3 separate regions of the Homo sapiens genome follow, and all the other regions are linked to region 3. The links come from fine-mapping of genetic effects on gene expression. A gene starts in region 3. Each other region holds a variant in brackets. All regions are shown on one strand. Distances are between the middles of the regions. Region 1 overlaps MFSD6 (major facilitator superfamily domain containing 6). Region 2 overlaps NEMP2-DT (NEMP2 divergent transcript). Region 3 holds the start of NEMP2 (nuclear envelope integral membrane protein 2).

Region 1 (4,241 bases), 58 kb before region 3:
CCAGGAATTGAACTCAGCTTTCCTGAGTGGACCTAATAGACATCTACAGAACTCTCCACCCCAAATCAACAGAATATACATTCTTTTCAGCACCACACCTATTCCAAAATTGACCACATAGTTGGAAGTAAAGCACTCCTCAGCAAATGTAAAAGAACAGAAATTATAACAAACTGTCTCTCAGACCACAGTGCAATCAAACTAGAACTCAGGATTAAGAAACTCACTCAAAACTGCTCAAGTACATGGAAACTGAACAACCTACTCCTGAATGACTACTGGGTACATAAGGAAATGAAGGCAGAAATAAAGATGCTCTTTGAAACCAACGAGAACAAAGACACAATGTACCAGAATCTCTGGGACACAGTCAAAGCAGTGTGTAGAGGGAAATTTATAGCACTAAATGCCCACAAGAGAAAGCAGGAAAGATCCAAAATTGACGCCCTAACATCACAATTAAAAGAACTAGAGAAGCAAGAGCAAACACATTCAAAAGCTAGCAGAAGGCAAGAAATAACTAAGATCAGAGCAGAACTGAAGGAAATAGAGACACAAAAAACCCTTCAAAAAATCAATGAATCCAGGAGCTGGTTTTTTGAAAAGATCAACAAAATTGATAGACCGCTAGCAAGACTAATAAAGAAGAAAAGATTAAAGAATCAAATAGACGCAATAAAAAATGATAAAGGGGATATCACCACCGATCCCACAGAAATACAAACTACCATCAGAGAATACTATAAACACCTCTATGCAAATAAACTAGAAAATCTAGAAGAAATGGATAAATTCCTTGACACAAACAACCTCCCAAGACTAAACCAGGAAGAAGTTGAATCTCTGAATAGACCAATAAAAGGCTCTGAAATTGAGGCAATAATTAATAGCTTACCAACCAAAAAAAGTCCAGGACCAGATGGATTCACAGCTGAATTCGACCAGAGGTACAAGGAGGAGCTGGTACCATTCCTTCTGAAACTATTCCAATCAAGAGAAAAAGAGGGAATCCTCCCTAACTCATTTTATGAGGCCAGCATCATCCTGATACCAAAGCCTGGCACAGACACAACCAAAAAAGAGAATTTTAGACCAATATTCCTGATGAAGATAGATGCAAAAATCCTCAATAAAATACTGGCAAACCGAATCCAGCAGCACATCAAAAAGCTTATCCACCATGATCAAGTGGGCTTCATCCCTGGGATGCAAGGCTGGTTCAACATATGCAAATCAATAAATGTAATCCAGCATATAAACAGAACCAAAGACAAAAATCACATGATTATCTCAATAGATGCAGAAAAGCCTTTGCAAAATTCAACAACCCTTCATGCTAAAAACTCTCAATAAATTAGGTATTGATGGGACATATCTCAAAATAATAAGAGCTATCTATGACAAACCCACAGCCAATATCATACTGAATGGGCAAAAACTGGAAGCATTCCCTTTGAAAACTGACACAAGACAGGGATGCCCTCTCTCACCACTCCTATTCAACATAGTGTTGGAAGTTCTGGCCAGGGCAATCAGGCAGGAGAAGGAAATAAAGGGTATTCAATTAGGAAAAGAGGAAGTCAAATTATCCCTGTTTGCAGATGACATGATTGTATATCTAGAAAACCCCATCGTCTCAGCCCAAAATCTCCTTAAGCTGATAGGCAACTTCAGCAAAGTCTCAGGATACAAAATCAATGTGCAAAAATCACAAGCATTCTTATATACCAGTAACAGCCAAACACCCAAATCATGAGTGAACTCCCATTCACAATTGCTTCAAAGAGAATAAAATACCTAGGAATCCAACTTATAAGGGATATGAAGGACCTCTTCAAGGAGAACTACAAACCACTGCTCAATGAAATAAAAGAGGATACAAACAAATGGAAGAACATTCCATGCTCATGGATAGGAAGAATCAATATCGTGAAAATGGCCATACTGCCCAAGGTAATTTATAGATTCAATGCCATCCCCAT[G/C]AAGCTACCAATGACTTTCTTCACAGAATTGGAAAAAACTACTTTAAAGTTCATACGGAACCAAAAAAGAGCCCGCATTGCCAAGTGAATCCTAAGCCAAAAGAACAAAGCTGGAGGCATCACACTACCTGACTTCAAACTATACTACAAGCCTACAGTAACCAAAACAGCATGGTACTGGTACCAAAACAGAGATATAGACCAATGGAACAGAACAGAGCCCTCAGAAATAATGCCACATATCTACAACTATCTGATCTTTGACAAACCTGACAAAAACAAGAAATAGGGAAAGGATTCCCTATTTAATAAATGGTGCTGAGAAAACTGGCTAGCCATATATAGAAAGCTGAAACTGGATCCCTTCCTTACACCTTATACAGAAATTAATTCAAGATGGATTAAAGACTTAAATGTTAGACCTAAAACCATAAAAACCCTAGAAGAAAACCTAGGCAATACCATTCAGGACATAGGCATGGGCAAGGACTTCATGTCTAAAACACCAAAAGCAATGGCAACAAAAGCCAAAATTGACAAATGGGATCTAATTAAAGAGCTTCTGCACAGCAAAAGAAACTACCATCAGAGTGAACAGGCAACCTACAGAATGGGAGAAAATTTTTGCAATCTACTCATCTGACAAAGGGCTAATATCCAGAATCTACAAAGAACTCAAACAAATTTATAAGAAAAAAACAACCCCATCAACAAGTGGGCAAAGGATATGAACAGACTCTTCTCAAAAGAAGACATTTATGCAGCCAACAGACACATGAAAAAATGCTCATCATCACTGGCCATCAGAGAAATGCAAATCAAAACCACAATGAGATACCATCTCATACCAATTAGAATGGCAATCATTAAAAAGTCAGGGAACAACAGGTGCTGGAGAGGATGTGGAGAAATAGGAACACTTTTACACTGTTGGTGGGACTGTAAACTAATTCAACCATTGTGGAAGTCAGTGTGGCGATTCCTCAGGGATCTAGAACTAGAAATACCATTTGATCCAGCAATCTCATTACTGGGTATATACCCAAAGGATTATAAATCATGCTGCTATAAAGACACATGCACACATATGTTTATTGCAGCACTATTCACAATAGCAAAGACTTGGAACCAACCCATATGTCCAACAGTGATAGACTGGATTAAGAAAATGTGGCACATATACACCATGGAGTACTATGCAGCCATAAAAAATGATGAGTTCATGTCCTTTGTAGGGACATGGATGAAGCTGGAAACCATCATTCTCAGCAAACTATTGTAAGGACAAAAAACCAAACACCGCATGTTCTCACTCATAGGTGGGAATTGAACAATGTGAACACATGGACACAGGAAGGGGAACATCACACACTGGGGACTCTTGTGGGGTGGGGGGAGGGGGGAGGGATAGCATTAGGAGATATACCTAATGTTAAATGACGAGTTAATGGGTGCAGCACACCAATATGGCACATGTATACATATGTAACAAACCTGCACGTTGTGCACATGTACCCTAAAACTTAAAGTATAATAATAATAATAACAATGCATTAAACAGGAACTGCAGGTAAGAATGATTCAATAACAAGGTAATATGCAACACAGTTCTTAGGATTTCCCACCTCTGGTTCCTGTTCTATCCTGACCTGGCTTAATTGCTTTATTTATTGGTATGCTACAGTGTGCAGACTCTATAAATAAAGATTTGTATACCTACAGAAAAGAAATGACTATATATTATAATAATACATGCATATAACTTTTTTATCCTTTTAGTTTAAAATGAGTTAGGTGGAAAAGGACGGTTTCCATAAGTGACCCAAGAAAAGAGAACATCCATGAAACGGTTAAAGAACAACAGAATAATTTTATAAGAGGAAAAAACAAATGCTGTGTGAATTTAAAAATGCATTTTCCTGTTAATTTATTAAAGATATATTAAATGGTGACTAAGAGCCAGGCAGCATGCTGGGTGCTGAGAATGTAATAAAATATATACATATATTAACTCAGGCCACAAGGTCTCACCAACTGTTCTGGAAGCCAGATGTGTAAACACATAATAACTATACAGCATGTTAGATGGAATCATAGAAAAATGTGCTAGGTAGCAGATAAGGAGCTTACCCTAAGGAGAATAATTAACTTTGTGAAGCAGGGAGTGGGAGGATGAAGACTGTATTGAAAAATTCCCTACAAAAATCACATAAGCTAGATTCTGAAGGGCGAATAGGAATCTACCAGGTGGTCTAAAGA
Region 2 (4,241 bases), 28 kb after region 3:
TGGCCCCTGGCAGCAGGTCCAGAAGTAGGTGAGGTTTGGCTGCTCCAGGGAGGTAGCTGGCACCCGGGAAATCTGTCAGCCATTGCAGAGTTGCAAGCTTTGCTCTGGGATTCAGATGCAGATAGGCAGTATCTAAAAGGAGGAGGTGAGTGAGGCAGAAGCTCAGTCCTAAAAGGGTGGCAGTTCTGGTCAGGTCTCCAAGCCTGCAGCTGATGCACAGGGATTTAGGCTGGTATCAGCTCTGGTGTGCAATGTGTGGGCCAGACTCAGGACATAAAGCAGAAGACCACTTGTAAGTACTGATGCAGAAGATCAGGGCAAAAATGAGAAGCCAGGTGAGTTGCTGTGTTAGAGATAAAAACTACTTCCATTTCTTCAGCCTGGAAAGAGGACTGATTTAAGGTAGGAGCCCGTGGGTGGGAGTCAAGCAGTTTTGCTGCTGGGATAGGAATGCTTCAGAGGGTTGAAAGCAGTAGGCAGAGGCAAATCATGAATGCAGTGGTCTCCAGGCTGGTGTTCATCACTAGATCACACTTCTTTTTTTCTTTATTCAACTGCCTATATGACTAGCTTCTCAAATGCTCATCGGTTTTAACATCTCATTGTTCTCTCATCTCAGTGTGTTAAATACAATTTCTATATCTACTCATTTCTACTTGCATGTTAGTCATTTTATCTTTTTTAAAATTATACTCTAACAGCATACATAATGTAAAATTAAAGAAAATATGACATTTGTCCTAATTATTTTGGATCACCTTCTTTTAAAAACAAACTGAGCATCTGGATTAAAATTTTGTACATCTGAACCAATATGCCACTTGATCTTAGGTGATACCTTCTTTTTTACCTCAACAAATATTTATTGAGAGCCTACTCTGGACAAGGAATTTATTAACTTCTAACCAAAAAATGTTAATTAGTCTGTTGTTTGAAGTGCCATCGACTTATTGTGCATTTGGTTCATTCATATAACATCCTCAAGGTGTGTAGGAAGATTAGCCACTTTGACTCAATCCTGTAAACTGTAAGCTTTAATGAGCTGAGCTCTGGGTAGAATTAGAAATACAAATACCAGTTTTTATATCTCAGGTTACTTTTAAATATCAAAATACTGTATTTGTTGGTACAATATCATTAGATTAGTATATCTAACATCAGAAATCAAAACCATTTATGTTTTGAGAAATACTCAGAGAATTTATACACTATGTTAATATTTCACGTGGAGCAGAGGTGTGCCCAGTGCTTCTTCCTCGAGGACTAGGAGAGATATGGAGCAGTGGGAAGGAGGTTCCTAGGCCCCATTACTACCTTCCCATGCTGGGGCTTGATGCTGTCTGCTCCCATCAGGACCGCTCATTCTCTGTGGCCTTCCCTCCTCTCCTAGAGTAATTTATTTCAAACAGGCCCTTCTTCTCCAATCATCCTACTTGAGAAGAGTCAGGAAGTAGGAGAGAGAAACCCCTGTCTTGGACCTTAACCCTGTCTCAGATAGGGAACACCTGGGGACAATGTGTAGCAAATAATGAAAACTATGTGTATTGGCCTGCTCGAGCAAGGGTGGCTTAAACAACAGGAAATTTATTTTCTCACACTTCCAGAGGCTAGAAGTCCAAGATCAGGATGTCAGCAGGTTTTTCTTCTGAGACCTCTCTCCTTGACTTGTCTTCCCCTTCTGTCTTCACGTGGTCTTTTTCTATGCAAGTCTATGTCCTAATTATAAGGAAACCAGTCAGTTTGGACTAGGGCCCACCCCTAATGACCTCATTTTACCTTAATTACCTCTATAAAAGCTCTGTCTCCAAATATAGTCCCATTCAGAAGTCCTAGGGTTTGGATTTCAACATACACTTTTTAGCAGAGGGGATGGGGGAGGGAGGTTGGTGGGAGAGGTAGGAAGAGTTCAGTCCATAACACCATATATGTCTATCTTTTTAAAAATCAAATACAGGCATTTATATATTCTGCAAAATAAATGCCAAAATACCAGTACTGCAATTAATGTCACAGTTATTCTCATAACATAATGAGCTCAGTTGCTTAATTGCATGGTAGAAAGGTGGATTTTCTATTTTAATGGCCCCTGGAAGAGTCTCAGAGGCTACCAACTTTTAAAATTTTTTAAAATAAGAGGATCTTAATTTTTATTTTACTATGTAGTTACTGTTGCCCATCTGTTTCATCTTGCCCTTGACTGGATATTCTTAATACATAGAAATGTAAATGAAAAGCTAGTTTTCAAAGGGTAATTAAAGGACTTTGGTAAAAAGGAAGAGAGCAACCAGAAATATTTGATTTAGGATGACCTGGATGACTGAAAAGAGAAAATCCAAATAGTTTTTTCCCTCTTTGGGTAGTCGACCAAGAA[G/A]TAAGCTCAGCATCTGAATTAGCTCAAAGGGAAAACAGACCAGTAGAAATGGGGTGTGAACTCCATAGCTAAGCTCTGGTCTGATAAAGTGACTTCCCAGCCAGGAAGCTCACACTGTTACACAGTGAGCTAAGTGTTCCCAGTCCCTCCCATCTGCCCATAGATATGTACAGCAGCACCACGGTGGGGCTCTTTCTATTCTGCAACCAGCTGTGCCAGCCCATAGAGTGCCTCACTTCTCCATGGAGCATTAAGCACTCCCTAGCTTCTTCCTCCAAGTTTCTGCATTACATCTCTCCCTGGAGGCTGCCATGGGTTGGGGCTGGCACCTTTGCATTCCATCCATGTTTGCTTATTGATGGATCAATTGATTGATCAGACTTTACAGATTTCCTATCCCACCCCTTGGACAAGTCCTTTTAAGCTCTCTAAGTATCAGTTAATTCATTCTGCAAAATATGGGAAAATATGTAAAATATGGGAAGATGGTCTCTATGACTCTTTTTTGCCCTAACTTTATATAAATCTATGCTACAATTTCAGATTTTAAGGCATATTTTTTTAAATATCATGTATAGCTACAAAAGGAACTATAAATGCCATCGACTAACACATAGGGAAAGAAAAGTACCCTTTTCTTCCTAGGGTCTTAAGGCTTATTTTAGATGGGAAATTTGAGTTTACCTCAACCTTGAGTTTTCAACTCATTCCCCTGCTCTGTTTTGGGCCACTCTTGTTTATAGAGGTAACTCTGAGATCACCCTAAAACTATGTATAAGCTGAAATATTCATTATCAATGTCAGTGGCAGGTTCTCCTCCAGTGATCAGGCTATAAAACACAAATATAATTCTGAAAAGCAAAATTTTATAAACACAAAATGACTATCTGTATGATAGCATTATCAGCAAAGCTTTGCTCTTCCTCTTCTGACTAGAATTTCTAATTAATTGTTTTCTAATGCTCTTTTATACAGCCCTGTGGAATGTTTCCTTGAGACATTCACATATGCAAGGTGGCTTTGTGCTGTGTTCTCCTGCCACCCACTCATCACCCACACGCACCTGCCCTCCTGCTCCCCGCTGACTCAGCGGCCCAGCCTCCTCCCACACAGGCCCAGTGACCCGGCACCCACTCAACCACCTTCTTGTTTGTTCTCCCACAAACCCACCCACTCATCTTCTCTCCTTCACGCAGGTAGACGTTTTCACACTCCCACTGCTCAGCAGACAAAGCTCAAGAATGTGCTTTGGGCGGTAGTGGCGGGGTGAGGGAGAATAATTTTTTTCTAATGACCATTATGTTTTTTTCCTTGATCAACAAGTTTATCCACAAATGAGTAGTTGATAAACAGTCATTTTTATGCTTAGATTATTTTTTCAATACTTCCTCTACTCAATAATTGGATTTTCTATTTTTGAAAACTCTACCACAACGTATATGTATACACTTTGAGCATTGTAACTTGTTTCAGTGAAAACACACTCCCCATCTTTTGTCTAAATTGAAATATTTCACTCACATTTTGAAGTGAACGGGTGCACCAATGAGATAATGGCTTATTGGGATGGTTATTTGTAATGATGGTGTCTGAGCTATAGCTGGAATCAATAGGCTGCCTGACAAGATTAATTGGCTGTGAATTATGCCAGAGCAATTCCAGAGCCAATACCAGAAACAAGGGCCAGCCCACTCATCAAAGCCCTGCCAAGGCCTCCCTACTCTGTGGGGCTGGCCCCAGGGGAGGCGGGGAGGCCAACCTCTGCTACTTGTTTATGTTTTTAAGGCTACTAGAAAGGCTTCCCTGAATCACCCTAATGTTGCTATCCTAATGTTCCAGAATTAAAGTCACTCCTGAGTCCTCTGAGTAT
Region 3 (4,241 bases):
AAAAGCAAAAAACCAACAAGTCTTAACTTGTGAGAAGTCAAATGGACTCAGGATTTTTCTTACTATTTGTTTTTTGTAAATACACATTTTCAAAGGTGTTAACGTGAGGCACCAAAGTGATAAAGGTAACTATTCTCTTAACCTCAGTTTTTTTTAACCTGAATATTCATCTTTTTCTTTCTCCAAGAATATGAGAATGAAACTGGAATTAGTATATACTCATGCACACTCAGGTCTTTAACTTCAAGTTCAAATCTTCACAGATGAATCTTAAAGCTGTGGTGTCAAATGGACTGTTATAGTTTAAGCCTGGAAAGCCACTGACAGGGCCTGAACTTCATCTCAGGACAACACATGGTTTCTAGGGACCTCACTAACTGGGTGAAAATTATGGGAAACTCTTGAAGTTTCTCCTCTCAGTCAGACAACTACCTGCTCCTCCTGTGTCAACTGTCTCTGACTTTCCTCCAAATAGAGTGACAGAAAGCTGGGGTTGGTCTGAATGTTCTCCATTCCATTGAAGTGTGTGTTATTCAAGACAAAATTTTAGAACAGGAAGGCACCTTAGGTATCACTAATCCAAGCCCCTCGCTTAAAGGAAGTACCAGCTGTTTCCTCTCAGGGTCCTCAAGAAACCATAGACTTTTAAAGAGCAGCTATGGTTCTTAAGCCTAGTCTAATCCAGGGCTGCCAACAGTGTCACTGGCACACTACCAGATGCTGGGCGCTTCACAGTCCGTATTGGAAAGCCTACCGGAATGGCAGGCATCCCTCTAAGGCTACAAAAGTTGCCATTCTTCTTAGCTGTGGACTAGTTTTATCAAGTCAGTGGGCATCCTGCATGTCTCAGGCAGAACAGAAGCTCCAATAAGTATTTATGTGTGTCTTTGATTAACAAAGCAGAGAAGCAGGCTGTTACTATTATACTAAATGCGGTAACATAAAAACTTTAAAAACACCAGGTTCACTGAGGTGAGGAAAATACTGGAAACTCTTCAGTAAAAACATCTTCATTTTACTCAAGAGAAAACTACGGTCCATAAAGACTCTGTGCCTGGACCAAGGTTATACCACAAGTTGTGGCTGAAGGAATGAGTGGTCTAGAACCCAAGGTGCTGGGTGCTGGTCTAAGGCTACTTCTAATTTTCTCGCTGTTGCCATGCCCAGAAACCTTCCTGCTTAGACAGATTTGTGTTTTATTTTTTCACCAGCATAAAATTGTTGTATTTCTTACTACCAAACCTTCGTTTTCTCATCTGTAAAATGGGTATAAAATGGTGCTTTCCCGCATAGGGCTTCTATGGGTATTAAATATGATAGATACTGCAGTTAAAGCACTTATAACACTGCCTAGCACATACTGAACACTCAAAAAATTTCTCTTCAATGAAAACTGGAATCCAACACTTCCCCAACATATAACTCACTGCAAGATTCCCTCAGTTGGGAGCTGTGGCAGAATCTGATAATGACCTCATCAACATCCAGTCTCTCATTCATCCTTAGATAAAAAACCGCGGTATAACCGGAGGGAGGGCCATGCCCAGCTAAAAGAATACACTTGGCAGCCTCCCTTGAAACCAGGGTAGCCAAAGCAAGGAAGGGAAGTTGGTAGACAGTGCACCCAGGAAATCTTTTAAAAGATTTTATGAGGGGAAAAAAAAAAAGAAACAGAAATGTGAAGCTCATGGTAAGTTAGCGGCAGGTCTGGAGTTGGAACTCTAGGTTTCTGACTTCCCCAGGTGTCCTTCCCAGATCCTTCCCCAGTGTGCCAGCATCTTAAGCCCACTCCGTGGCGAGCCCCTACAGCTAGCAGCCGCTACCAGTTCTTGCTTCCTGTGTGCCAGGCATTGTGCACACGAACACCACAAGAACCTTGTGAGGCCTCATTACCTGCCGCTCACGTGGGACCGTTATGTTTACTCGCTCAAGGTCACAACAGTCAGGGGCAGAAGAATTTTCGCTCCGATTCTGAAGCTGAAGCTGTTACCTTCTCTAGTCTTGAGACCAAAGGAATGCGAGATAGTGAAATAACAAGGATTTCAACACGCATTGATGTACTGTACAAAAGGCCGTGTGCTGAAAGTCTGGAGACTAGGGTCAGCTGTGCCAGTGACAAGCTGTGTGACCCTGGGCAAATCAAAACCTCTCTGAGTTTCGGTTGCTTCTGTAAAACGAGGGAATTGGGCGACTGGATCGCGCGGTTGCTTCTAATTCTAAAATTACAAAATGTCCAACTGCCAGGCGAGAGACTACGGAAGCCCAGTAAGACAGGAAGGGCGGGCGGGGCCTGCCCGGGAGACCCCAAAGCGAGAAAAGGGAGCGCCCGCCCCAGTGGGCCTCGCGGTGCCGCCCGGGCCAAAGAGCGCGCCCTCAGGGCAGCCGCGAAGCCGGGGAGCGAGCACGCACGCGCGCGCCGCCGCCGCCGGTCCCGGGTTACCTGATAACGCTGCCGCCGCCGCCTCCCCGCGCACGGGCAGTGTGGCCAGGGGCGGCAGCCAGAGCAGCAGCCACCACCGCCCTTGGCGCGGCCCCATTTCGTTAGGGGTCAGCTCCGTGCGACCCGAGCCCTAGGGGACCGGCTCCGCTGCGAGGAGCGGAAGTGGCGCGGGGGCTCAGAGAAGGCGGAGGGGGCGGTGAGGCCCGAACGCGGGAAAGGCGGAGACCCCGCCTCCCCGGGGCGGAGGGAGAGTTGGGCTCGTTGCTCCAGCCTCCGCCCGCGGCCTCGGGGCACGGCGGGCCCAGGCCGGAGGAGCTTTCGGTGGCGCGACCCCGCTGGCATGCTCCCGGCCTCGGCCTCGGCCTCGGCCTTGGCCTCCGGGCCTCCAGCGCACGCGGGGCGTCCAGGGCCTCATCTTCCCCTGGGGACCGCCCGGCCGTGTCCCGCTGCCCTCGGCGCAGGGGTGGGAGTTGCAGAGAGGAAGAGTCGCTAACCCGGAGTGTTTCTTAAAACTTGGCTGACCTGTGACCTGCGGATTTGGAGGCTGAATTCTCCGAGCACCTGTGAGTGACAGCCCGTGAATGGGAAGGTCCTTCGGCAAACGCCCTTTTTGTGAATAAAATACATAAAAGCCAGTTTCTTTATTTTACCTTTCTGTTTATCTTTTTACTTTCATTTGGTAACAAGCAATAACAAATTGGAAATTTGGCCGCTTAAGTAACACTGACTTGTATGTCTAATCTCGGACACGGCATTTCAGAGTACAGAGGGGCTCGTAAAATGTTCCTTCACCAACATGACAAGGTTCTCTTAAAATTACCTTATGTTAAAAAAAAGTTTCTTAATGTAATAGATATATTTTTAAATTAACATATAACCTGAATGATCTTAATACTGATAATTAGGAGATATACATATATTTTAAAGAACATTCCCTCCACAGGACCTGGAACCCATTAATTTGACTCAATATTCCATACTTAACTAGGACAGTCTTCTCTAATTCTGGTCTTTTGGTGAGATATCTTAGAGAACCCAAAGTAACAGAAATTATCCTGTTAAAAATAGATAAGCCTCATTTTTCCTAAAAGTCTGAGTAGGATGGACTAGGCTTTCCTTGCCCTCAAAGAAAGGTTTAACCAACTGCCCTTAAGCACTTGGCACCATGTGTACACCATGTATGGCTTTTAAAAAGTTAAGAAATTTCCTTGTAAGGGACTCTTCAGAGGGATGGTTTTTAAAAATAAACCATCATTACTTGAGTGAAGCCTGTCTTCAGAGAAACAGCAGAGCCCTGATCCAATTCTTTCCTGTATTCCCAGGTGCGGTGTGCACTTGCTTCTTGCAAGACAGCTTTTGTACCTAACCACATTCATTTTGATTTGGTTTAATTTTGGATGGCACTATGGAAAGTAGCTAAAATAAACAGGTGGGTTGTTGAATGATGAATGTATTTTCTACAGATATATCTGGTGGAGAAACAAAAGGGCAGGCAGCAATGTACTAAATATTTAAAGTGCTATTTATATCACAGATCCTTAGTAAATATCTGTAAAGAAGCTATATTGAAACACCACATTTTTCTCTATAAGCAATAAATATTTTTCCGGAGATAACAAGAATGTTAGGAGGTGATAGTTCTGTCACTGGGGGACAATCATGAAATTCCACTTAACCTCTCCAAACTTTTCTTCTGTATGAAAACCTTATCCACTGGGGGAAGGGCAGGAAGCTTTACCACCAACAGGATCCTGGCAAAGACCCCCTGCTTCTGGAGAAGAGATAGAAGCACAAACCTTCT

Evidence for each region. PIP is the estimated chance that this variant, and not a neighbour inherited with it, causes the effect.
Region 1: its variant is the best candidate, but not a certain one, in a credible set for the expression of NEMP2 in whole blood (TOPMed, PIP 0.86).
Region 2: its variant is the best candidate, but not a certain one, in a credible set for the expression of NEMP2 in tibial artery (GTEx, PIP 0.53).

The regions. Positions count from the first base shown.
Region 1 is chr2:190,473,688-190,477,928 of GRCh38, forward strand. The region is part of intron 4 of MFSD6 (major facilitator superfamily domain containing 6); the gene reads left to right. It also overlaps a transcript of NEMP2 not described here. Among named protein-coding and RNA genes, the nearest start is that of NEMP2, 59 kb to the right of the region's middle. The variant G/C (reference allele first, on the strand shown) is at 1,983.
Region 2 is chr2:190,559,793-190,564,033 of GRCh38, forward strand. The region is part of intron 1 of NEMP2-DT (NEMP2 divergent transcript); the gene reads left to right. It also overlaps a transcript of NEMP2 not described here. Among named protein-coding and RNA genes, the nearest start is that of NEMP2-DT, 27 kb to the left of the region's middle. The variant G/A (reference allele first, on the strand shown) is at 2,372.
Region 3 is chr2:190,532,119-190,536,359 of GRCh38, forward strand. NEMP2 (nuclear envelope integral membrane protein 2) reads right to left here and starts at 2,604. Exons shown (of 9, transcript NM_001142645.2): 1 at 2,441-2,604. The coding sequence starts at 2,537. NEMP2-DT (NEMP2 divergent transcript) reads left to right here and starts at 2,720. Exons shown (of 5, transcript NR_183903.1): 1 at 2,720-3,003. RefSeq lists a silencer at 2,268-2,917.